Linked DNA regions of Homo sapiens. The protein of the gene in region 1 purifies or fractionates together with the protein of each later gene. This does not show direct contact. Each region holds a gene or a part of one and is shown in the gene's direction. Other genes may lie near its edges.

Region 1 (6,698 bases):
TTATCAGTGTTCACAAGAGCAAACTTGCAGGGCTATGATGGAGTTCTTTAAAGAAGGGAAGTAGATCTCAAAACCATTCAGTGTAGATGAAACTCTGTGCCACTGGGGGTTCCTTGGATGCATAAAGAAAGTACCTTCTAGACTAAGACTTCTGCAAGGATGGTGCTCCCATGAGTTGCTCTCTTTCTCTCTCTCTCTCTCTCTCTCTCTCTCTCTCATTTTTCAAGGCTCTCAGCCCAGTATCCTACCCTTCTAACCAGAAACAATCCCCTTTCTCAAGAGTGGAGGAAGTTGTGCCGTTTGCTTGAATGGCATCTCAGGTTTCCTCTCTGCAGTCCCTTCTGGAAGGAGAGGAAATGGGTTCCAGTCCACGGGGCTGATACCTTACTAATGATCTTTAGAAGTAAGCCCCTTGTCAATATAGCACTTTATTTTAGTCCTCTGTTGCAGAGGGTTATGTATTTATGGCAGATTTATTGTCATTGGCCTTATACAAAGCCCTTCTCTTATTTTATTTTACTGATTTATTAACTTTTATCCCCATAATCAACTCCTATCCATCTCTCACATAGGCAACTCCTATGATGTTTAACTCCTATGATGTATCTTGTCACCCAGGTAGTGAGCATAGTATATAATAGGTAGTTTTTCAGCCCTTGCCTCCCTCCCTCTCTCCTGACTCTAGTAGTCCCCAGTGTCTATGGTTCCCCTCTTTATGTTCACATGTACCCAAGGTTTGTCTCCAACTTGTAAGTGAGGACATGTGGTATTTGGTTTTCTGTTTCTGCATCAGTTGGCTTAGGATAATGACCTCCAGCTGCATCCATGTTGCTGCAAAGGATGTGATTTCCTTCTTTTTGATGGCTGCATAGTATTCCATGGTATATGTGTACCACATTAAATGTGTATATATTTTAAGTGGTTTTATGTTATTTATCGGATTCTGTTGCTTATTTTAAAAACTATTTGCACAGGTTTTTTTTAAAGTCAACTTTTTTGAGGTATAATTTATATAAAACATAATGTGTAAATTTTGATGAATTTTGACATCTGCATATAGAACATTTTCATCACTCTGAAAGTTCCCTCATGCCCCATCTCAGTCAATGCCCACTTCCTCCCATCAGCCCCAGGCAACCACTGATCTGTTTTTTGTCACTGTAGATTAGGTTTGTGTTTTCTAGAGTTTCATGTGAATAAGCTTGTTCAGTATGTTCTTCTTTGGTCTGGATTTTTCCACTCAGGCTAATGCTTTTAAAAAATGTTTATTATTATTTTTATTATTATTCTTTTGAGACAGTGTTTCGCTCTTGTTGTCCAGGCTGGAGTGCAGTGGCATGATCTTGGCTCAGGTTCACTGCAACCTCCGCCTCCCGGGTTCAAGCAATTCTCCTGCCTCAGCCTACCAAGTAGCTGGGATTACAGGCACCCGCCACCATGTCTGGCTAATTTTGTTATTTTTGGTAGAGACAGGGTTTCACCATGTTGGCCAGGCTAGTCTCGAACTCCTGACCTCAGATGATCCACCCACCTTGGCCTCTCAAAGTGCTGGGATTACAGGCGTGAACCACCACACCCAGCTTGCTCTTTAGGTTCATCCGTATGTTGCATAGCAGTGGTTAATTCTTTGTTGCTGAATAGTATTCTATTACATGGAGATATCAGAATTTATCTGTTTACTAATTAATGGACTTTTGGGTTGTTTTCACTTATGGTGAATAAAGTTACTATGACAATTCAAGTTTTGACGTGGACATATGTCTTCATTTATCTTTGATAAATACCAAAGAGAGGAGTTGTTTGGTTGTATGATAAGTTTATGTTTAACTTTATAAGAAACTGTTAAACTGTTTTTCCAAAGTGGAGATACCAAGAAAATCAGCAATAATTTTGTTTATTTTATTTTTTTAACAAGTTTTTTTAAAATAGAGAAGGGACCTTGCTATGTCATCCAGGCTGGTCTCAAACTCCTGGCCTCAAGTGATCTGTTTGCCTTGGTACATTTTTTTTTTTTGAGATGTAGTTTCACTCCTGTTGTTCAGGCTGGAGTGCAATGGCACCATCTCGGCTCACTGCAACCTCTGCCTCCCAGGTTCAAACAATTCTCCTGCCTCAACCTCCCGAGTAGCTGGGGTTACAGTTGCTCACCACCCCACATGGCTAATTTTTGTATTTTTAGTAGAGACGAGGTTTCACCATGTTGGCCAGGCTGGTCTCGAATTCCTGGCTTCAGGTGATTCACCTGTCTCAGTCTCCCAAAGTGCTGGAATTACAGGCGTGAGCCACCATGCCCAGCCAGTACATTTTTAAATCGTTGAAAACAATCAAATTTCATTTAGAGATGTGAAAATTATACAAAATTTAAACTTGAGTGTCTATAAATAAGTTTTATTGGAATACAGCCACACTCATTTGCTTATATATTGTCTGTGGGTAATTTTGTCCTATAGCTGTAGAGTTGAGTAGTTGTGATAGTTGTGGCTGGCAAATCCTAAAGTATTTACCATCTGGGCTTTATAGAAAAAGTGACCTCCGGAGCATTAATTTTTCTTCAGACAACAAGAAAATTTATCTTGTCTTTTTTTTGTTTTTGGAGACAGGGTCTCTGTTGAGCTGGCTGGAGTGCAGTGGTGCAATTTTAGCTCATTGTAGCTTCGACCTCCTGGGCTCAAATGATTTTCCTGCCTCAGCCTCCCTAGTAGGTAGGACTACAGCTTTGCCCCACCATGCCCGGCTATTTAAAACTTTTTTTGTGTGTGTGTAGAGATGGAGTCTCGTTATGTTGCTGAGGCTGGTTTCAAACTCTTGGCTTCAAGCAATCCTCCTGCCTTAGCCTCCCGAATTGTGGGGATTACAGGCAGGAGCCTCTGCTCCTGGCTTGTTGTTTTCTTCCATGTTAGAAAGAAGATATTCCTCTTATTAGTATGTCTTTATTTCTGTCCATTTTGAAATGATAGACCTAGGCCAGGTGCAGTGGCTCACGCCTGTAATCCCAGCACTTTGGGAGGCTGAGGCGGGTGGATCACCTGAGGTCAGGAGTTTGAGACAAGCCATGGCCAACATGGTGAAACCTCGTCTCTACCAAAAATACAAAAATTAGCTGGGTGTGGTGGCGCGTGCCTGTAGTCCTAGCTACTCGGGGGGCTAAGGCAGGAGAACTGCTTGAACCCGGGGGGCAGAGGTTGCAATGAGCTGAGATGGTGCCACGGCACTCCAGCCTGGGCAACAGAGCAAGACTCTGTCTTAAAGAAAAAAGAAAAAGAAAAGAAAGATAGACCTTACCATTATTGTCCTAAAAAGCACTTGGCTCTTTCCTGATCTATCTGCTGGCCTTGTGTATAAGTTAGCCATTACTATGTAATGTTCCACTCCAAAACTCAGTGGCTTAAAACATCAATCCTTTATATTTGGCTAGATTGCCCTGCTTGAGGCTGGAATGCCTGGGGCAGCTCTGTTTCTCACTGTAGATCTGTGAGTCGCCTGGAGTAGCTGTGCCCCACGTATCTCTCATCCTCCTTGGACCACTGGGGCATGTTCTTCTCATAGTGATGGCAGAGACACAGAAGGGCAAATGAAAATATTCATCATCTCTTAAAACCTAGGCTTACAACCGGCACACCGTCACTTCTGCCCACATATCACTAGCCAAAGCAAATCACATGCCAAGGCCAAAGTGAAGGGAAAATGAAATAGAGTTCTCCTAGGATGAGACCTTGGCAAATGTGTGAATTCAAGTAGGGATGAAGAAGTAGGGCCAAGATTACAATCTACCATTTCTTTCTTTCTTTTTTGAGACAGAGTCTCGCTCTGTTGCCCAGGCTGGAGTGCAGTGGCACAATCTCGGCTCACTGCAACCTCCGCCTCCCGGATTCAAGCTAGTCTCCTGCTTCAGCCTCCTGAATAGCTGGGACTACAGTGGCCAGCCACCACGCCCGGCTAATTTTTTGTATTTTTTTTTGTAGAGACGGGGTTTCACTGAGTTAGCCAGGATGGTCTCGATCTCCTGAACTTGTGATCCGCCTGCCTCGGCCTCCCAAGTTGCTGGGGCAATCTACCATTTCTTATAAGAAAGACCAAGCTGGGCATGATGGCTCATGCCTTTAATCCTAGCACTTTGGGAGGCCAAAGCAGGAGAATTGCTTGAGACCAGGAATTCGAGGTTCCAGTGAGCTATGATTGTGCCACTGCACTCCAGCCTGGGTGACAGAACAAGACTGTCTCAAAAAAATAAGTAATAATAAAAAAAAGACCACAACAATAATAAATGGCTTTTCTTTTGCTACCTATGAGGGTGCTACTTGTTCCTATTAAATATGTACTGTTAAAAGTAAGGGCTATGGCTTTCCTGCTCATTCCACTCCATGAATACTGACATTCTGGTTTCCAGTGGTGATGGCCATGGAGCTATTAAGGTATTTTCCCCTGCTCTGCCCTTCATTTGGTATTATAATGAATCATCAACATATGGGACATCCTAAGATGTCCTTGTTGCTGGGAAGAACCCAAGGCGCAGAGAAGTATCACTCCTTTTCTGTCTTATCTCTTTTTCTCTCTCTTTTTTTCTCATTAATGAAAAACAAATTAGAGATGAAAATATTTTTCCCCTTCTTGGTTCTCCAGCTGTATTATAAAATTCTTCAGAGGCAAGGCCGTATCTTCTCTTTGTTAACGTCCCTTCCCCCTCTCCCAGCCTCCTCAGGCAGTGTGGTTGATACCTTCCTTGCCTGCCTGTCTGATCTCAAATGACTGTTCCCGTTCTGGTTCACTGATCTTGGCTCTGCCATGCTCCTCAAGGCAATAAATACCAGTCTGGACTGCCCAGAATGGAGTCCTCTGTCTGTTTTACCAGTTGAGAAGCCTCCTATCCCTCCCTGATCATTCATCATTCATGAAGCTCCTTCTTCTGCTTTTGACTGTTACTCTGCTCCTGGCCCAGGTCACCCCAGGTAAACAGGATCTCCAGAAGGGGATGGGAGTCAGGAAACCTGATGCATGTTCAGAGAACTCTGGGGACTCTGACAGGTTGGGCTGGGAGAATGGCCTGGTAGAGCTCATTGAGGCCTTTAGGTAGTCTCTCTAGTTATGGGGAAGTTTGAGTTCTCTGGTACCAAATGGTCTTCCCAGTGCCCAGTACTTGACCATTCCAACCTTATCTCTGGTTAGCTCTGGAAAAGCTGAACGTGATGACCTGAGGATGGGATAGGGTGTAAAGAGAGAGACTTGGGTATGGAGTATAGAGAAAATGGGGACTTTTTCAAAAACATTCATTGAAAGGATTTGAATTTTGATGCATTGTTGCCTCTAGGAAAATGGTTCTCAAATTTCTGATTGTTTGAGGATTCTGATTCCACTTTTTAATGCAACCTCAAATCATCTGGGTTACCTTAGGTTGTAGGTTCCCTGGAATAGCTGTTCCTAATTCCCTTGACTGGTTGGGGCCAGAGAAAAGTCCCAGGATGTTGTGAAGAAGGCAGTATGATATTCTTGGGAGTTTTAAAGGTGCCCTAGAAGACTTACAGATGTTAAATGAGTTTATTTAATATTCCTGTCACCTTTCATTGATATGGTCAGAGGGGGTACCAAAGAACAATGAGAAAAGGTGGCTAATTGCTACTGGGCACCTGGGTACATTATAATATGGGGGAGATAAAACCCTTGGGAGAGGGGTCCTCTTCCCCCTCCCAAGGAGCTGGCCAAGGAGGGGAAGCTATCCAGTAGGTCCTATGCCACTGAGTTGGGGGGACTCTGGGGGTTCTAACAGGGGGCACAAGTGAAGGAAGAAAGCGTAGTGGTCTATAATCTCCCTTAAACTTAGGGGATCCTGTGTAAGAGCTTCTTCCCCACAGACCTCCTCATTTCCCTCCTACTCCTCTACTGGGCTTTAGCCTCTTCCTTTCACACCTTTCTGCTTTCTTTCAAAACTGACTCTATTCTCTTCTTCCCTTTTGTTTTCAGTCATGAAATGTTGGGGCAAGTCAGGCAGGTGCAGAACAACATGTAAAGAAAGTGAAGTATACTATATATTATGCAAAACTGAGGCTAAGTGCTGTGTGGATCCCAAGTATGTACCTGTAAAACCAAAATTAACAGACACAAATACAAGCCTGGAATCAACTTCTGCAGTCTGACACCTCTCTTCCAACCTTGAGTCTCAACATCATGGGATCCTGCAGTTCTATTAAATCATTCTTGGCAACACCCTGTTTCTGTCTGATAGTTCCACCTAGTTACATTTAGAAACAAGTAAATAAAGAAGAAAGGTTGTGTGCGTGTGTGTGTGTGTGTGTGTGTGTGTGTCCGGTGTGCATGTTAGGAAGAACAGGATGGACCAGTAGGTGGTAACAATCTAAACCTTGCAAATAGCTCCTAGCCTGCTGACCCATAGCTGGTCCAAGAGGGCATGAATTAAAGAATATTCATTATATCTACTTGATTCCTGTTTTCTTCTAGACCAGCACTGCCAATAGAACATTCTGCCATGATGGAAATATTTCCTGTCTATGTTGTTCAATATGGTAGCTACTAGCCACATGTGGCTACTGAGCACTTGAAATGTGCCCAGTGTGAATGCGGACCCGAAGTTTTAATTTGATTCAATCGAGCTTTAAATTTATATAGCTAAATGTGGCTAGTGGTGATTGTATTGTATAGCAATGGCTTTAGAGTCTAGGCTGAGGCATGCTGTGGGTCTCAATCTA
Region 2 (7,040 bases), on another chromosome or scaffold:
CAACAACCATAAAATACTAAATACTAAAAAGTTTTAGATACCATAATCTTTTTCCATTAGTACTGAAAATGTTCAGCACTCATTATTACATTCAGCAGGCTGTAACAGTGTAATAGTGGGATATACTCTGGATTGGGCACAAAAAGATCTGGAATCTAACCCCTGTTATGCATTTCCTAATGCCCTGTTCTTGGACAAGTCACATATTCTCTGAACCTAAGTTTTGTCATCTGTATAGTGCAAATGATGACTGATTTACTTGACAAATTATGTGATTGTCACACATGAACAATTCTCAAAAATCTTTAAAGTTTTAAATTTAAACCATTAAACTGAACATTTTAAAGCAAAAACTGGATATTTAAAAAAAAATTCCATTCTATACATTTTAGTAGAAGGACTTAGTAGAGGGTTAGATCAAAGAGTCCTTATGTTTTTTATGGACTACAAGTTGTTGCAATGACAAGGTATTTGATAAGAATTCTCAAATATTTATAATAATGATTTGTTCACCTTTGCCTTAATATTAAACATCTCTAAGAAGATATTTCTTATAATAAATCAGACTCAAGGAAAATGAAGCAAATAATCTTTTTTTTTCAGTATGGCAAATTTAATTCCAAAAGGCAGAATAGACACCATAATAACCTATTTCATTCATTCATTCATTTATTCTTTAATAAACACGGAACCTCTACCATGGGAGTATACAGGAAGAATGATAAATAGAAATAAGTGGATCATAAGAGTATAGTCTCTGATTTCAAGAAACTTACAGACTTCAGAATTCTGAGTTCACAAGTCTGGGAAAGTCATCAAAGCTAAATAGTTTTATTTTTACTTGCAAATGAATTTGGAAATCAAAAGTATTAAATTGTAAAGCTTAAGTTCCCTATGAATAGAAAAGTGTTCAATAAGTACTCCTTCTAACATTAATCCACTCATTTTTTAACAATGGTGACCTGTGTTATAATTAAGCTAGGAACCTAACAATCCAAGTGTCCTCTCTGATACTTCAGCTACGAATGAGCACTGGTAGTCATTATTTCTTTTGAAAGGCATTCATTTTTAAGATTTTATATTCTGATTTTCACATAGAAGTATCTATTTAGTTCCGTCTTGAGGAGCTATTGTCATTTGATTAGAAATTGGCAACTATAAAAACTCCTACAATTAGAATAATTTACTTACATTGTAGTAGCTTTAAAGATAGTCACAGGAAATATAACTCATTATCATATTGGAGCCTCTGTACACGTTAGATGTAAGAGTGGGGATGGGGTTATCACACACTTTTAAGAATAACTATTTTATTGGACTTTTACTACATATAGACACATTTTAGGACGGATTTCATCTATGGCAAACTACATTTTTGAAATATTAATTGTGTTCAGTCCCAAATGAGCTGTTGCAGAATTAGTTTGCCTGATGGACAACTTTACATACTTTTGGCATGCAATACTTCTCTAATTGGGAGATGGCCTTTCTTTTGAACATTTTAATTTTTTCCATTTTTTATATCCCCAATTTTCTAAAATATAGATTCATTTATTAGTCACCAACAACGCCTTGACATTATGAGCTTCTTGACATAAAACTCTTGAAAAAACTATAGTTTAAATGTCCTAGACTAGGTTAAGTGAGTGAGGTACCTGAGATGCAAAATTTAAGGAGGCTGTCACTGTTAGTGTCATGGTGTATCTCTTTGAGAGTTAGGCCCTAAGCACATCACTCAGTACCCTAGTCCCAGCTTTGGGTCAGAAGCTAAGCATTCTGGCTGTAGAACTGCCCAAGGGACTAGTACTAATCTTGACCTGTGCTTTCCTCTCCCTCATTCCAATTTGCTCATGTCTAGCCAGACTTTCTGACGATCTAGAGGTGACATTAGGTCTTATTGCTATGGAAATGGAGACTATTCCTCTGCCTTTACATCTGTATTAGACTTTCTTCATATTTCCAACCTGTTCCAAAAATTGAGGGGTGCTGTAGAAAGTTTTCAGTATCTCTTAGGCAATGGGCATGCTAGAATTCACTTCAAGCCTTCAGGAGGAGTTTGGTATGCTACGCTGACTGCCCTTGATGGGATTTGTATTTCCTGGGGCATTTGCAATGACGGAGGCCCGAAAAAAGCTGCGCGGGCCAAGGTCAAAGTTTGTGTTAGGCTCCTTAGCCCTAGGGATCTTTAGCTTCCATTTGATTTTCTTCATGTGATCTAAATGAGTTGAACTTATAAAAATATTTTCAAGGCTACTCTGTTTGCTTTTTATTTTTTTCAACTTGTTAAATGCTATACATTGATCTTTTAAATTTCATAGGGAGGTAACTGACTAATTTGAAGTTCTCATAAATGAATCAATAGGGTTGCTACATTATGAAAGAATTTTACTAAGTTTCTTCTATAATGCAGACTGAAATATAAGACCATTTTAATTTATCACCACCATACAGTAAAAATTAGCTTATGATATGTAGGTTCCTCCAGGATTCTGAACAACTTGCCACATAGCAGATGCTCAGTAAGGCATATTAATAAACCTACACTTTATGAACATACTTTGTAATGAAATTTTTATAAATGCTGTATTTTATTTACAATGAGAAACCTTATTAGAATAAAAATGATTCATAAATCTTAATCTTTTGTTTATAAATGTTCAAACATAAAAGTACTTAAGTAAATTAACCTTTTGATTTTGTCCCCTTAACATTGGCTTATGTTTAACCAAAGACCGATGACTTAATATTAACTTGGAATGTTGTAAGATTATTAACTGAGAATGTGGTAAGGCCTAATTGATTACTGCTGTTACAGTGCTTCAGAATTTTGAAGTGTTAGGCCTTGTAACTGCAGAGAAGTCTCATGAAATATTTCAAAGACAAATTGTGCTGAAATTCTAAATTTCAAAAATCCATATCTTAATAGTGTAATTCCAAGAATAAAAGAATAAGATTTCATTTACTTGATTTTAACTTTTTACCATATTATCTACACAATAATTACCTGAAATAAATTCTGGCTTTAGGCTTTCTACTTTTCAGTGCTTAGTTCAGATTTATTTTTTAAGAGGATGAGTACTGAGGCGAACTAATAGCTTAGAAACATCAGGTAAGCCAGAAAGCACGTATGTTATATAGCCTTAGGCCTTGGTGAAAATGGAAAAAAAACATGTGGGGCCTCTACTTTTTCTGAAGTGCAAATAGTTTACGTAGATAAATGATTCAACAGCAATACCATAATCCCAGAGTAAATTATTTTCATTTTTACTACTAGCTCAAGGGAATTACTGACTTTTAAATGGTGTTTTTTTTTTTTTTTCAAACCTTTTATGGAATCTATTGCTGAATTAGCTTAAGGCTTTACAGGCAGAACATTTTAGTGGTGGAGTCTCATATCTAGGAGAAGAAACATTTCTGTTCCTCCCATTTCACAGATATGTAAGTGCTGAAGTTAAAACAAGGACACATGGATGCCTGTTTTTGTACGTAAAACAAAATATACATTAGCAAATTTGGTTAGAATTTTAATTAGGCTTCAAACAACAGATGGATCTTTTTAATTTGAAGTTTTGTTATTGTACTTATATACCCGATGCCATAGTTGTGTTTAACCTGGCTTCAGAATGTTCTAAGTCATTTCTTCTGCTGTTATTTTATTGCTTACTCAAGGGCTCATTTACATACTGAATGTTATGGCAATACGACACAAATTTGATTTTTCCTTTTCTTTTTTTGAGAATAGGTTGTTTAAATCAAAGCATAAGGAAGGATTCTTGCTTTATATGGCTGTCAACAATTATATAAATAGGACATTTTAGGGCAATGCTGTTTACAGTTGACGTATTTCTTCCATTTCAACCTAAATATTGTCATGTGTTTGTAACAAAACATGCTGTTTTTCAGTTTCAATGTGTTTCTTCCTCTTATAGTCCTGTAAGCTCCACATATACAAAAGCCTAATGCAATTTTAGGCTGCAAGAAAAGTCTCATTTTGACTTGTTTTCCATCTTGATATAAAAGACCCGAAGAAAACTGGTTCGAAGTAAAGGATCGATGTCCTTAGAATTAGTTCAGAATGCTGATGGGTTGTGAAACAATACATGAGCAATGAGTAGATGATTTTTAATAACATAATACTGAATGCAAAGGAGAACCTAACAATAATGATAAACACTAGGCTGCTTCAAAAACTTTTATAGATTAAATTACAAATTATGTTTGAATTTTGACTGTTACTTCCTAAGACTAAGCCCTCTCAATCAGTTTAGCATAGCACCAGGGACAGATGCTCAAACCTTTTTCAAGGGGAATGTAGCTGTGTGACTCTCATTAATAGCTGTTGCATTATTCTGATTCTGGAAAACACTTTGAAACATCTACCCTTTTAAACTGAATCTCAGACTGAGTATTAAAGGGTAAAATTGCAGTCACTTATTTGTGGTCCCATAAAGTTTATGAATCATCTTACTAAGAAATGAAAATATATCCATAAATGTAGGCTTACAATGAATTTTAATTGTGAGGAAAATTTAAAACCCCTAAAAGAGATGAGATTTTTAGAGAAATTTCAGAGCTTGCAGTATTCTATCTTGTAACATCATTAGAACATTGAAATATTGTTTGACAATGGTGAAACAATAATATCAACATCCACGGCAGACAAACCAAAACAATTGAGAGTTTATTGGAATTTCTACTTATATGTAACCCCCCCTCACAAAAATGTATTTTCATTAAAAATTACTTATAACCTGTGAAAGAAATCTCAGACTTTACAAATATTAAGAATTGCAACATTAAATTTAGTTAACAATGATTTTTTTTTTTTTGAGATGGAGTCTCGCTCTGTCGCCCAGGCTGGAGTGCAGTGCTGCGATCTCGGCTCACTGCAAGGTCCGCCTCCGGGGTTCACGCCATTCTCCTGCCTCAGCCTCCCGAGTAGCTGGGACTACAGGTGCCTGCCACCACGCCTGGCTAATTTTTTTGTATTTTTAGTAGAGACGGGGTTTCACCGTGTTAGCCAGGATGGTCTCGATCTCCTGACCTTGTGATCCGCCCGCCTCGGCCTCCCAAAGTGCTGGGATTACAGGCGTGAGCCACCGCGCCCGGCCTAGAATGCTCATTTTAAAAGTAATATAGGAATGGGGGCCGGACTTGGTGGCTCACACCTGTAATTCCAGCACTTTGGAAAGCCAAAGCAGGCAGATCTCTTGAGGTCAGGAGTTTGAGACCAGCATGGCCAACATGGTGAAACCCCATCTCTACTAAAAATACAAAATTAGCTGGGTGTGGTGGCGCAAAGTGCCTGTAATCTCAGCTACTCGGGAGGCTGAAACAGGAGAATTGCTTGAACCTAGGAGGCAGAGGTTGCAGTGAGCCAAGATCATGCCACTGCACTCCAGCTTGGTCGACAGAGAGATTTCATCTCAAAAAATAAATAAATAAAAATAAAAATAAATAAATAAATAAAAAATAAAAGTAATATGAGAATGGAGATCATATAGCTATTTTTGTAATTCAGTTTAATTTAGAAATAGGAGTACTAAATAAAATTATAAAGTAAGATTAAACATGGAGCAATTACATATACATAGGAAAATTCCGTTTTAGTCCTTCTAAATATTGTGTGTGAAAAAATCTGCAGTCTTATGAATCTTCCTCCAATAAATTTTCTAACAAAGGAAACATTTAGTATTACTAGGCCGTAGAGACTAGTAATTTAATCTTTAATTTTTAAATTTATATGAAGTAACAAGAGAACACAATTTTTCACCGCTTATTTTATAACCTGATTGGCTCCCAGATTCACAATACGTGTAGGCTCCAGACTAAAAAATGCCAAACTGTTAGTGGAAAGTAACCTTAAGGCATTTTTCTTGATATCCATATTAGCTACAATCCTTGGCCTATTTCTTTGGAGTATGTTTACATGTTTTATGAATATAATTACATAGGTGGGAGAAGAAAAACATACAAACATAATTTCAAAAAGATGGAAATAATGTTAATAATTGCAGCCACAATTTAAACATATTGGTTCAAAAGTTTAAACGTATTTCTTTGTTTTATGAGATTCAAACAAAATCTCATAAAAACATGAGATTTTTAGAAAGTACAGAAAAATCTCTCTCTCTGTATGAATTTTATTTTAGGCAGTTGCATGCTAAACTTGTGCTTGGTTGTTCAAATAAAGTGAATGTTCACATGTGGACTCCACTCTTGAACATCAGGCAACTTGGAAGTAACATTAACTTTGGCATAAGGACTTTGACTGATCATTTGGTTTAAGTGCCTAGCATGACTTAGGTTCTCTGTAAACAAATGCTGAGATGATGTTTGGGGAGCATGCTCTCTATTAGGGATCAGCATCTGTGAAGCTTCAGGAAGTAGAACTGGACAGAGAACTAAACTGTAATGCAGTTTTGATAAAGCCTTGGCCAACGGGATAGGAAGCTGCTGCCCACCAGACTTTCCTGGATGTGGCCTGAACCTTTCTATCCAGGCCTAACTTAGACACTGGTCATGGGGTATTCCAAGAAAGTCATGGGGCAATGCAGCCCTCTACAGCTGAGATAGACCCTGAAAAATTTGACAGCAGGAGATGGTTTGCTGACCTCACTCCTCACAGCAGGGCAGCAAGTTTTTCCATTATTAATATGAATAATTATCTATGTTATCTAGAAATTGAATCCTCCATCACTGGGGAAAAGGGAGGGGGGACTGAGAGGTGGATCTCCTTATTCATCACAGCATCTAGGGTTCCAACAATCTTCAGTGCTTGAGAACTCAAGGGCCTAGGATCAGTGCAAATTGTTCTCGAAACCTGCTGATTCTCCTCAGATTATAATGACTCAGGTAATTCATGACTTGACATTTCACTTTGACAATTTACAGATTTATAGATAGGTAGTTCTTGGTTGACCTGGGCCTGTTGTGGCTTATCCATGGCAATTTTGAATTAAGGCTCTTATAAATAAATTTAAATAGAGTTCATGCTTAAATTTCTTTTAATCCTCACTTACGAAATTGGAAAGCAGAAA
Region 3 (3,562 bases), on another chromosome or scaffold:
GGGTTGAAGTGTCCTGCCTCAGCCTTCCGAGTAGCTGGGATTACAGGCATGCACCACCACACCTGGCTAATTTTGTAATTTTAGTAGAGACAGGGTTTCTCCATGTCGGTTAGGTTGGTCTGGAGCTCCCGACCTCAGGTGATCGGCCCGCCTCGGCCTCCCAGAGTTCTGGGATTATAGGCGTGAGCCACTGCGCCCAGCCCCACCAAAGTTTTATTTTATGCTTAACTACCCTAGGGATCAGGGGCTGGACAGTGGGAAGTACTATGTAAATCTTAATTTATCAGCTATCTTTGGGGGAATAGTCAAGCTAAGAAGATGGTTTTTTTTGCCAGGCACGGTGGCTCATGCCTGTAATCCCAGCACTCTGGGAGGCCGAGGCGGGCGGATCATGAGGTCAAGAGATTGAGACCATCCTGGCCAACATGCTGAAACCCCGTCTCTACTAAAAATACAAAAATTAGCCAGGTGTGGTGTTGGGTGCCTGTAATCCCAGCTACTCGGGAGGCTGAGGCAGGAGAATTGCTTGAACCTGGGAGGCAGAGGTTGCAGTGAGGCGAGATTGTGCCACTGTACTCCAGCCTGGAGACAGAGCGAGACTCTGTCTCAAAAAAAAAAAAAAAAATGCATCTTGTTTGTTTGTTTTGAGACGGAGTCTCACTCTGTCACCTAGGCTGGAGAGTGGTGGTGCCATCACGGCTCACTGCAACCTCTGCCTCCCAGGTTCAAGTAATTCTCCTGCCCCAGCCTCCCGAGTAGCTGGGACTACAGGTGCATGCCACCACGCTCGGCTAATTTTTGTATTTTTTAGTAGAGACAAGGTTTCACTATTTGGTCAGGCTGGTCTCCAACTCCTGACCTCAGGTGATCTGCCTGCTTTGGCCTCCCAAAGTGCTGGGATTACAGGCATGAGCCACTGGGCCTGGCCAAAAAATGCATCTTTAGATGATACAATTCATTCATTCAACAAATAGTTCTGAGCTCCTATTATGTGTCAGCTTCTGCACCTGAGGGGCTAGGGACAAAATGATGAATAAGACAGGCATGGTTTCTGCCTATTAACATCCAGTGGGGGCCACTCAATACTCAAATGAACAAATATGTAATAAAAAACTTTAGGCTGGGTGTGGTGGCTCACGCCTGTAATCCCAGCACTCTGGGAGGCCGAGGCGGGTGGATCACCTGAGGTCAGGAGTTCAAGACCAGCCTGGCCAACATGGTGAAACCCCATCTCTACTAAAAATACAAAAACTAGCCGGGCAAGGTGGCGGGCGCCTGTAGTCCCAGCTACTTGGGAGGCTGAGGCAGGAGAATTGCTTGAACCCAGAGGGCGGAGGTTGCAGTGAGCCAAGATTGTGCCACTGCACTCCAGCCTGGGCGAGAGGGCAAGACTCTGTCTCAAAAAAAAAGCACTTTATTTGGGAGATTCCAGGAAACATTAGTAGAGGCAGAGGAAATGAGAAAGGAGGGAAAATCATGTGGTATTGAGCGGAAAACTGCTGGATGACAGGGCTCAGTCCTGTTGGAGAACTCTGGGTGGTGCTGTAGAACAGGGCCACTCACAGTGGGGTGCACAGACCAGCACGGCTCTGTGACCTGTTTGTTACAGGTCCATGATGAGGTAAACAATACACTGAGTATAAGGGTTGGTTTAGAAACTCTTACAGCAATTTGACAAAGTAATCTTCTGTGCAGTGAATCTAAGAAAAAAATTGGGGCTGTATTTGTATGTTCCTTTTTTTCATTTCATGTTCTGAGTTACCTATTTTTATTGCATTTTACAAAAGCATCCTTCCATGAAGGACCGGAAGTTAAAAACAAAGCAGGTCCTTTATCACAGCACTGTCGTAGAACACAGTTCAGAGTTATCCACCCAAGGAGCCAGGGAGCTGGGCTAAACCAAAGAATTTTGCTTTTGGTTAATCATCAGGTACTTGAGTTGGAATTGTTTTAATCCCATCATTACCAGGCTGGAGGTGAGGTTAGTGGTGCAGGAGTTGCTGAGGCAGGTGGAAATCTTGTAATAAATGCCTAAAAATGTTTTAAGCAATTTGACTGGGCTCTGGAAAGCATTTTGTGATTCTGAACTAAAAGATGGACAAGTAAATTTTATCAATTAAGAACAAACACCCAGAGACTATTTCTCTTATCCAGAATTTATGACAAGGTCCTGTTGTTCTTATTATCAGTGATACTTATAATATGGTTTCTTGGGATGAGTAATGGAGTTTACTCCAAGAAACTCAAAGCATTTCATACATTATTTCTGTGATAAATCAGGAAATATGTGAATAATTATTTTATGAATATGTATTACCTAAAGTTCATTAGTTCACATTTTATTTTTGCATTCAGAAAATCTAATTCTTTACCCATCCTAACCTTTTAGCAAGCAATTTTGTAGTCACCCTCAGGCAAGCAATAGTGTAGCTATACTCTGGAAACCCTTCACTTCTTGAAGAAGGAAAAAGTCTTCCTGATTGAAAATTGGTGGCTGGGTGAGGTGGCTCACGCCTATGATCCCAGCACTTTTGGAGACCAACATGGGTGGATTGCTTGATCCCAGGAGTTCAAGAACAGCCTGGGCAACATAGTGAGACCTCATCTTTACAAAAAATAAACAAAATTAGCCTGGTATGGTGGCAGGCACCTGTGGTCCTAGCTACTCTGGAGGCTGAGGTAGAAGGATTGCCTGAGTGTAGGAGGTCGAGGCTGCAGTGAGCTGAGATCACACCACTGCACTCCAGCCTGGGTGATAGAGTGACACCCTGTCTCAAAAAAGAAAAAAAAAATTGGAAAGATCTGAGATGGTGTTAGTTTCAGTTGCCTGTGCTGCTCTCATTCCCTCTTTAGTACTAACATTCTGGATGTGTGTGTGTGTTGTATTTATTTTTTAGGACAGTTTATTCTGCGTTGTAGCAGCATTTGGCTGTTTCTACTACTGAATGAATCTTTGAAAAGCTGGTAAAAGACATGACCATGAAGAAATCTGAACTTTTTAATATTGTTAAATATCTTGACAAAATAAAGATGTTAGTAGTTTGACAACTGAATCTGTTGTGTTTTAGGCCTTATATTTTTAATGTTTTGATTTTGTTACACTATGTTCTGTTTCTTTCTTTCCTTCCTTCTTTCTTTCCTTCCTTCCTCTCTCTCTCTCTGTCTCTCTCTCTCTCTCCCTCTCTCTCTCTTTCTCTCTTTCTTTCTTTTTTTTTTTGAGACAGAGTCTCTCTCTGTCGCCCAGGCTGGAGTGCAGTGGCACAATCTCGGCCCACTGCAACCTCCGCCTCTTGGGTTCAAGTGATTCTTCTGCCTCAGCCTCCCAAGTAGCTGGGACTACAGGCAAGTGCCACCACGCTTGGCTAATTTTTGTATTTTTACTAGAGACGGGGTTTCACCATATTGGCCAGACTGGTCTCAAACTCCTGACCTCATGATCCATCCATTTCAGCCTCCCAAAGTGTTGGGATTACAGGTGTGAACTACTGCGCCCGGCCCTACTATATTCTTGTTACACTGGAACACAGAGAAAAAAGTAGGGGAAAAGCCATTTCAATTGTTC
Region 4 (7,040 bases), on another chromosome or scaffold:
GGTGCCTCAGCCTCCCAAGTAGGATTATAGGCATACACCACCACGCCCAGCTAATTTTTGTATTTTTAGTAGAGACGAGGTTTCACCACATTGGCCAGGCTGGCCTCAAGCTTTGGCCTCAAGTGATCCACCCACCTTGGCCTCCCAAAGTGCTGGAATTACAGACGTGAGCCACTGTGCCTGGACTAAATTTTTTAGGTATTTGAATTTTTAAAAATTAGAATAGAGTTTTAGAACAGGTAAGATTAACCTATTAACTGACCGTTGATTCAATCTTTTTGTGTTGTGTTGTGTTTTATATTTGTAAATGGAAAAACGAAATGACAAATAATTATGAAAGAGGCATCCATTTGAATTAAAGATCCTGAAGAAGAGAGAACTATTATCCGGAGTTAATCCTTTAATAGTTTTCAGGACATAGTGATAATATAGAGCTTCATTTTGGAATATAAGCATGAATTATCTCTCCAGGGAATTTTTATGTGGCTCATATATGTATGATTTATTTGAATATTCACTGTAGTTACATACTCTTATGGCATTTTGAACTTACATGATTAGAAGAAGAAAGTTAATTAAAAAAGAGAAAAGCATTTTTTTTCTTTTAATTTAGAAAGGTGTTACAGAAGATGGCTGGAACTGCATTTCTTGCCCTAGTGACTTAACTGCCGAAGGAAAATGTCACTGTCCCATTGGCCATATTTTAGGTAAGAATTAGATTCCTTATAAAGAAGTAGTGATAAATCTTCATTCTTGTTTTTGTTTTTATTTGAAAAGGGCACTAATTTAAATAGTTAAGTGATTACTTAATATTTTTGCAGTGGCTCAAGCAATTCTCCTGCCTCAGCTTCCTGAGTAGCTGGGACTGCACACATAACACCACTGCAGCTGGCTAATTTTTAAATTTTTTGTAGAGACTGGGTCTCGTTATGTTGCTCAGCCTGGTCTTGAACTCCTGGCCTCGAGAGATCTTCCTGCCTCAGCCTCCTAAAGTGCTGGGATTATAGGCATCAGTCACTGTGTCCAGCCCTTAATAGTGTTTATAAAAATTATTTTTGTACAAATTAATGATACTTAAAACATCAGCAGGCATTGAGAAGAAAATACAAAGTTTTGTCTGAGTTTTTTAAAACTCTTAATATTGTAGGATTAGATGGTTATTTCCTTAACATAACATGACAAAATATGTCTCAACTCAAAAGCCAACTTGATACTTAATAGGGAAAAAGCGTAAGCATTCCTGTTAATGTCAGGACCTGGAAAAGGATGCAAACTATGCACTTAAGTAAGAGAAAAAAAATATTTATCATTGGAAAAGAAAAGGTAGGCCGTTGTTAATCCTAGCACTTTGGAAGGCTAAGGCAGGTGTATTGCTTGAGCTCAAGAGTTTGAGACCAGTCTGGGCAACATGGTGAAACCGCATCTCTACAAATAAAAAAAAAAATTATTTGGTTACGGTGGCATGCACCTGTAGTCCCAGCTACTCGAGAGGCAAAGGTGGGAAGATCGCTTGAGCCTGGAAGGTCAAGGCTACAGTGAGCTGAGATGGCGCCACTGCACTCCAGCCTGAGCGACAGGGTAAGACCCTGTCTCATGAAAAAAAAAAAAAAAAAAAGTAAAATATCATTGTTTACAGATGATTTGATTGTATGTTTAAAACACCCAACAGAATGACTAAAAATTATTATAAACAGTGATGGAAGAAAATACCTCATATACAGTAGCAACAAAAAAGAAAAAATAAGTAGGCATATCCTTTTTTTTAATTTTAATTTTTATTTTTGTTTTTTTTTTTTTGAGACAGAGTTTTCACTGTTGTTGCCCAGGCTAGAGTGCAATGGTGTGATCTTGGCTCACTGCAACCTCCCTCTCAGGTTCAAGCGATTCTCCTGCCTCAGCCTCCCGAGTAGTTGGGATTATAGGCATGTGCCACCACACCTGGCTAATTTTATATTTTTAGTGGCTAACAGGGTTTCTCCATGTTGGTCAGGCTGGTCTTGAACTTCCGACCTCAGGTGATCTGCCTGCCTCAGCCTCCCAAAGTGCTGGGATACAGGCTTGAGCCACCGCACCTGACCTTGGCATGTACTTTAGAAGGAATGTACAACATAATTGAAGAAATTTGTGAGTATTACTGAGGGATATGAAGGCAGGCTTTTAAGTGAAAATGCATTCTTTATTTTTGGATGGGAAGATTAAATATTAGAAAGATGCAACTCTTCTACCAGTCTGTATATTTTAAAGGACCCTAATAAATTCTATCAGGATATTATTTGTTTGTTTTGGGGTAATATACAAATAGAGTCTGAAGTTTAACAGGAAAGTTATATGAAAAGCTAAGAAAATTCTGGGAAGGGAAAGAAGGAACTACCCCATCAGATAATATGCATGTTATATAGCTACTATAATCACATATATGACAGGCTTATGGATACACAGACTGATTGATGGAACTTAAAACAGGCAATCAGAATAGATTCAATTCATATAGGAATTTGGTATGTGAAAAAAGTGGCATTTCATATAAGTGGGGATAAAACTGATTAATGATGCTGGGAAAACTGAGAAAACACCCAGGTTGGGTTTCTACCTTATTTCTGAGAAAATTAAACTCCAAATGAGTCAAATACTAAATATGAATATATGAAAGTTCTTAAAGAAAATGCAGGAAAAATTTGTATAGTTTTGGTTTAACAGGCCTAAGTATGACCAAAAATACTCAGTCACTTTGGAGGCCTAGGTGGGACGATTACTTGAGCCATGGAGTTCCTGACCAGCCTGGGCAATATAGAGAGACTCTGTGTCTACAAAAAAAAAAGAAAAAAAGAAAAACCACAGAAGAAAAAATTGGTAAATTTATAAAATGCCATAAAAATTATAATACCAAAAACCAAACTACAAACTAAAGAAAAATATTAATGCATACAATAGACAGAGGTCGAAGTTCTTCAATAAATGTAAAGCTCCTACAGATAAATAAAAGTAAGATGAATAACCCAATTTTTAAAATAGCCAAGAGTCATAAATAAAGTTCACATAGAAAAAAATATTTTAACGTGAGAAAAAAATGTTCAACTTTACTCAGAGTAAGAAAATGTACGTTAAAGCTAAAATGAGATTTTATTTTTAACCTACCAGATTTTATTATAAAATTTTTTCGACCGGGCACAGTGGCTCACGCTTGTAATCCAGCACTTTGGGAGGCCGAGGCAGGTGGATCACCTGAGTTCAGGAGTTCAAGACCAGCCTGACGAATGTAGTCGCTATTAAAAACTCAAAATTAGCCTGGCATGGTGGCACATGCCTGTAATCCCAGTTTCTTGGAGGCTGAGGCAGGAGAATTGCTTGAACCCAAGGAGGTGGAGGTTACAGTGAGCCAAGATCACGCCATTGCACTCCAGCCTGGGCAACAAGAGTGAAACTCCATCTCAAAATAAAAAAGAAACTTTTTCAACTTTGACAATGTATTTATAAGGATACAGGGAAATAGTTATTCGTGTATTAATGGGAAAAATTTTAAGTTGGTGCAACCTCTGTGGAAAGCAAATTTATGGTGTTTATCAAAATTAAAAATACAGATTATCTTTGCCTGGAAAGCTCTCATCTAGAAATTTCTCATTTGGATACACTTAACTGTATGCCTGAAGAAGTGTTGAATGTTTTTTTCTTGCAACATTATTCCTAAGACAAAAGATTATAAACAAAATAAGATTCTATCAAGATGAGATCAATCAATTAAATTATGATATAGTCATACAATGGTATAGAATGCAATTGTGGAAAAATAAAGAGGCAGTTCTACACATAGTGCTATGGAAAGAAATCTAAGATATATTGAGTAAAAAAGCAAGATTTGGAATAATTTATTCATTCATCTACAAATGTTTATTGAGTACCTGCTATTTATCAGCACTATTTTATGTACTTGGTATTCCACTATTTAGCTTTTTAAAGACCATTATATATGCATATGTGCTTGTATATGCACAGGTTATTTCTGAAAAGACTCATAAGAAACTGTTAACAATGCTGCCTCCTGAGTGAAGAACTGAGTGCCTGGGAATAGTGGGAAAGAGACTTAATTTTCATTTTAAATCTTTTTTTGCTTGGTGCAGTGTTTCACGCCTGTAATCGCAGCACTTTGGGAAGCCGAGGTGGGTGGATCACCTGAGGTTAGAAGTTCAAAACCACCCTGGCCAACATGGTGAAACCCTGTCTCTACTAAAAATAGAAAAATTAGCTGGGCATGGTGGCAGGTGCCTGTAGTCCCAGCTACTTGGGACACTGAGGCAGGAGAATCACTTGAATCTGGGAAGTGGAGGTTACAGTGAGTGAGATCACGCCACTGTGCTCCAGCCTGGATGACAAGAGCGAAACTCTCTCAAAAAATAAAATAAAATAAATCCTTTTGTGCCTTTTATTTTTATATTTCATATATTACCCAAAGATTAATTTTTTAATTATCTTTACCTTTTTTTTTTTTTACTTTTTAACAATTTTTTTTTTTGTGGTGATGGGGGTCTTACTATATATCTCAAGCTGGTCTTGAACTCCTGACCTCAAGCAGTCCTCCTGCCTTGACCTCTCAATGTGTTGGGATTACAGGTGTGAGCCACCATGCCTGGTCTTATTTTTTCAGAGACGTGGTCTTGTTATGTTACCCAGGCTGGATTCAAACTCCTGGGCTTAAGCAATCTACTGCACCCAGCTTCTTAGTAGTTTCATTGGCACTGTTGCCTCCATTGAAAATATTAACTTGATTCTCACGGTATTTGGGGGGTGTATTCTTAGGGATGGGACTAATGAAAGTTTTATGAGTTGGATGGCAATATGAAATTTATTACACTTCATGATGTACTAATTTTGGTGTGTGTGTCTCTGTGTGTGCACATTCAGAATTTTTTTTCCCTGTTTTATTATAAGGATCTACACTATATAGCCACAGGAAACATAAGTGGTATGTTTGCATAAATGTTTCATACACAAATATTGTTCTAGCATACTTTTTTCAGTTAACGGTATGCTCTGATGCTCTGTTAGATTTACCTGATTCTTTTTGTTTGTTTGTTTTTTGAAACAGGGTCTCACTCTTGCCCAGGCTGGAGTGTAGTGGTGTGATCTCAGCTCACTGCAACCTCCACCTACCAGGTTCAAGTGATTCTCATGCCTCAGACACTTGAGTAGCTGGGATTACAGGCACGTGCCACCACACCCAGCTAATTTTGTATTTTTTTTTTTTTAGTAGAGACAAGGTTTTGCCATATTGGCCAGGCTGGTCTTGAACTCCTGGCCTCATGTGATCCACCCACCTTAGCCTCCCAAAGGGCTGGGATTACAGGCATAAGCCTCCTCACCTGGCCTTACCTGATTCTTTTTAATATATTCCATAGTATTTTGTAGCATGGATATACCATCATTCTGCTATTTTAAATATTCGTGTTGTTTCTAACAAATAATGCCTCAGTGAATATCCTTATATACATGTTCAAGTGTTTCTGTAAGTTAGGTATCTAAAAACAAAATTGTGGTGTTATAAGGATGTGAATTTGAAACTTTAATAGATACTACTAAAAGCCTTCTAAGTTGCAGAAACTTATCAGTAATCTATGAAAATACTTGCTTCCCCATCCTAGTGTGACAGAAATGTATAGATAAGAGGTAAGAAAATTTTTGAGGAAAAAAATACTGACTTAATTGTTACGATGACTTGGAAAATGATTTTCTATATTTTACTATGTGAGAATAGGGAAGGCATCACTTCTCTTTTTTTTTGGAGGCATGGACGGGTACGAAGGGATCACTTCTCTACACTTTATTATGGAGATACTTGTTATGCCTTTAATGCAAATAAAGTGTTTTGAGAATTAATAGAATAATAGTTACAATTGGGTTTTGTTAAATATTTTCTGAATATGTAGAAGCTTATATGTTTACTATGAGTTACATCTTTATTTTGTTTCTAAACTGTTCAGTGGAAAGAGACATTAATGGAACATTGTTGTCTCAAGCAACTTGTGAGCTCTGTGATGGAAATGAAAACTCTTTTATGGTAGTAAATGCTTTAGGAGACAGGTAAGCAGTGTGATGGGGGCTAACTTCATTAATATCATCTTATATTAGTGTATAATTTGTACTTTTAAGAGTGTTTTCCTATCATATCACTTAGTTTTCACAATAACCCAAGGAAGGATAGAAGTAGACATTAACAGATACAGAAGCTGAGGCCCAGAGCGTGAGACACACTAGGGTTCAAATTTTGGTCCAGTCTGTTAGTTGTCTGACCTTGGATAGCTCACTACTTCACAATCCCTTGTCTTTAGAATGGTAATGTTACCACCCACTTCATAGGCTGTAATGGCTCAGAAATAATAAGTAATAAAGTAAATAGATACAGTTCTTAGTATAGTGCTACATAGTAACCACTCTGTACAGGGTAGCTATTTTTGTTTGTTGTTACATAATTTGTATATAATCTGTAATATAATTATGTGCTAAGTACTGTACTAAAGCCCTTATGTATTATAATGTTACATAGAAAAACATAAATGTATGCTAATAATAGCCCAGGTACCCTGATTTATAGTCCCATTTTCTGTTGCTTCCTGTTCCCCCTTTGTGCATGTATTTGTGAAACACACACACACACACACACACACCCCTGCCTGCCTATATACTTCCCTCTAATTTAAGCACATTATACCAATTTCAGCATCTTTAATTTATTAGAGGCCTACATCATGACTTCCCTCCGGGCACAGTTTTTTCTTTAGTTTCCAAGTTTAATATGGAAAATAGTTGAGCAGCTTTTCTGAGGGCTACTTAGTGTTGGATCATCTTTTCTCTAAGGCTGACCTGAGTTATGGCATCCAAATACCAATTTTTTTTGCCCAATATTTCCCCAAGCCTAGTGTGTTTTATGTCATGCCCCAGCCCGACTCCTACCTGCTCTATTTTGCAAGTGATGAATACCCATATATTCACTCATCACTGTCCTCATTGGACCAGTACCCTCCCTCCCTCTGTCTCATTCATTAATGAAA

What was found.
Region 2: the proteins of DEFB121 (region 1) and CPS1 purify together in Homo sapiens (affinity purification with mass spectrometry; 2 studies listed by BioGRID and IntAct, with this or other methods). This does not show direct contact.
Region 3: the proteins of DEFB121 (region 1) and DYNLT2B purify together in Homo sapiens (affinity purification with mass spectrometry; 2 studies listed by BioGRID and IntAct, with this or other methods). This does not show direct contact.
Region 4: the proteins of DEFB121 (region 1) and TMEM67 purify together in Homo sapiens (affinity purification with mass spectrometry; 2 studies listed by BioGRID and IntAct, with this or other methods). This does not show direct contact.

The regions. Positions count from the first base shown.
Region 1 is NC_000020.11:31,404,343-31,411,040, reverse strand, and holds DEFB121 (beta-defensin 121 isoform 1 precursor), read left to right. Parts: upstream 1-4,825; 5' UTR 4,826-4,888; coding exon 4,889-4,946; intron 4,947-5,955; coding exon 5,956-6,128; 3' UTR 6,129-6,196; downstream 6,197-6,698. UniProt on the Homo sapiens protein: Has antibacterial activity.
Region 2 is NC_000002.12:210,559,565-210,566,604, forward strand, and holds part of CPS1 (carbamoyl-phosphate synthase [ammonia], mitochondrial isoform b precursor), read left to right. Parts: intron 1-7,040. UniProt on the Homo sapiens protein: Involved in the urea cycle of ureotelic animals where the enzyme plays an important role in removing excess ammonia from the cell.
Region 3 is NC_000003.12:196,290,710-196,294,271, reverse strand, and holds the end of DYNLT2B (dynein light chain Tctex-type protein 2B), read left to right. Parts: intron 1-2,897; coding exon 2,898-2,945; coding exon of another isoform or gene 2,946-2,968; 3' UTR 2,969-3,053; downstream 3,054-3,562. UniProt on the Homo sapiens protein: Acts as one of several non-catalytic accessory components of the cytoplasmic dynein 2 complex (dynein-2 complex), a motor protein complex that drives the movement of cargos along microtubules within cilia and flagella in concert with the intraflagellar transport (IFT) system.
Region 4 is NC_000008.11:93,757,870-93,764,909, forward strand, and holds part of TMEM67 (meckelin isoform 1 precursor), read left to right. Parts: intron 1-613; coding exon 614-707; intron 708-1,990; coding exon of another isoform or gene 1,991-2,124; intron 2,125-5,972; coding exon 5,973-6,072; intron 6,073-7,040. UniProt on the Homo sapiens protein: Required for ciliary structure and function. Part of the tectonic-like complex which is required for tissue-specific ciliogenesis and may regulate ciliary membrane composition.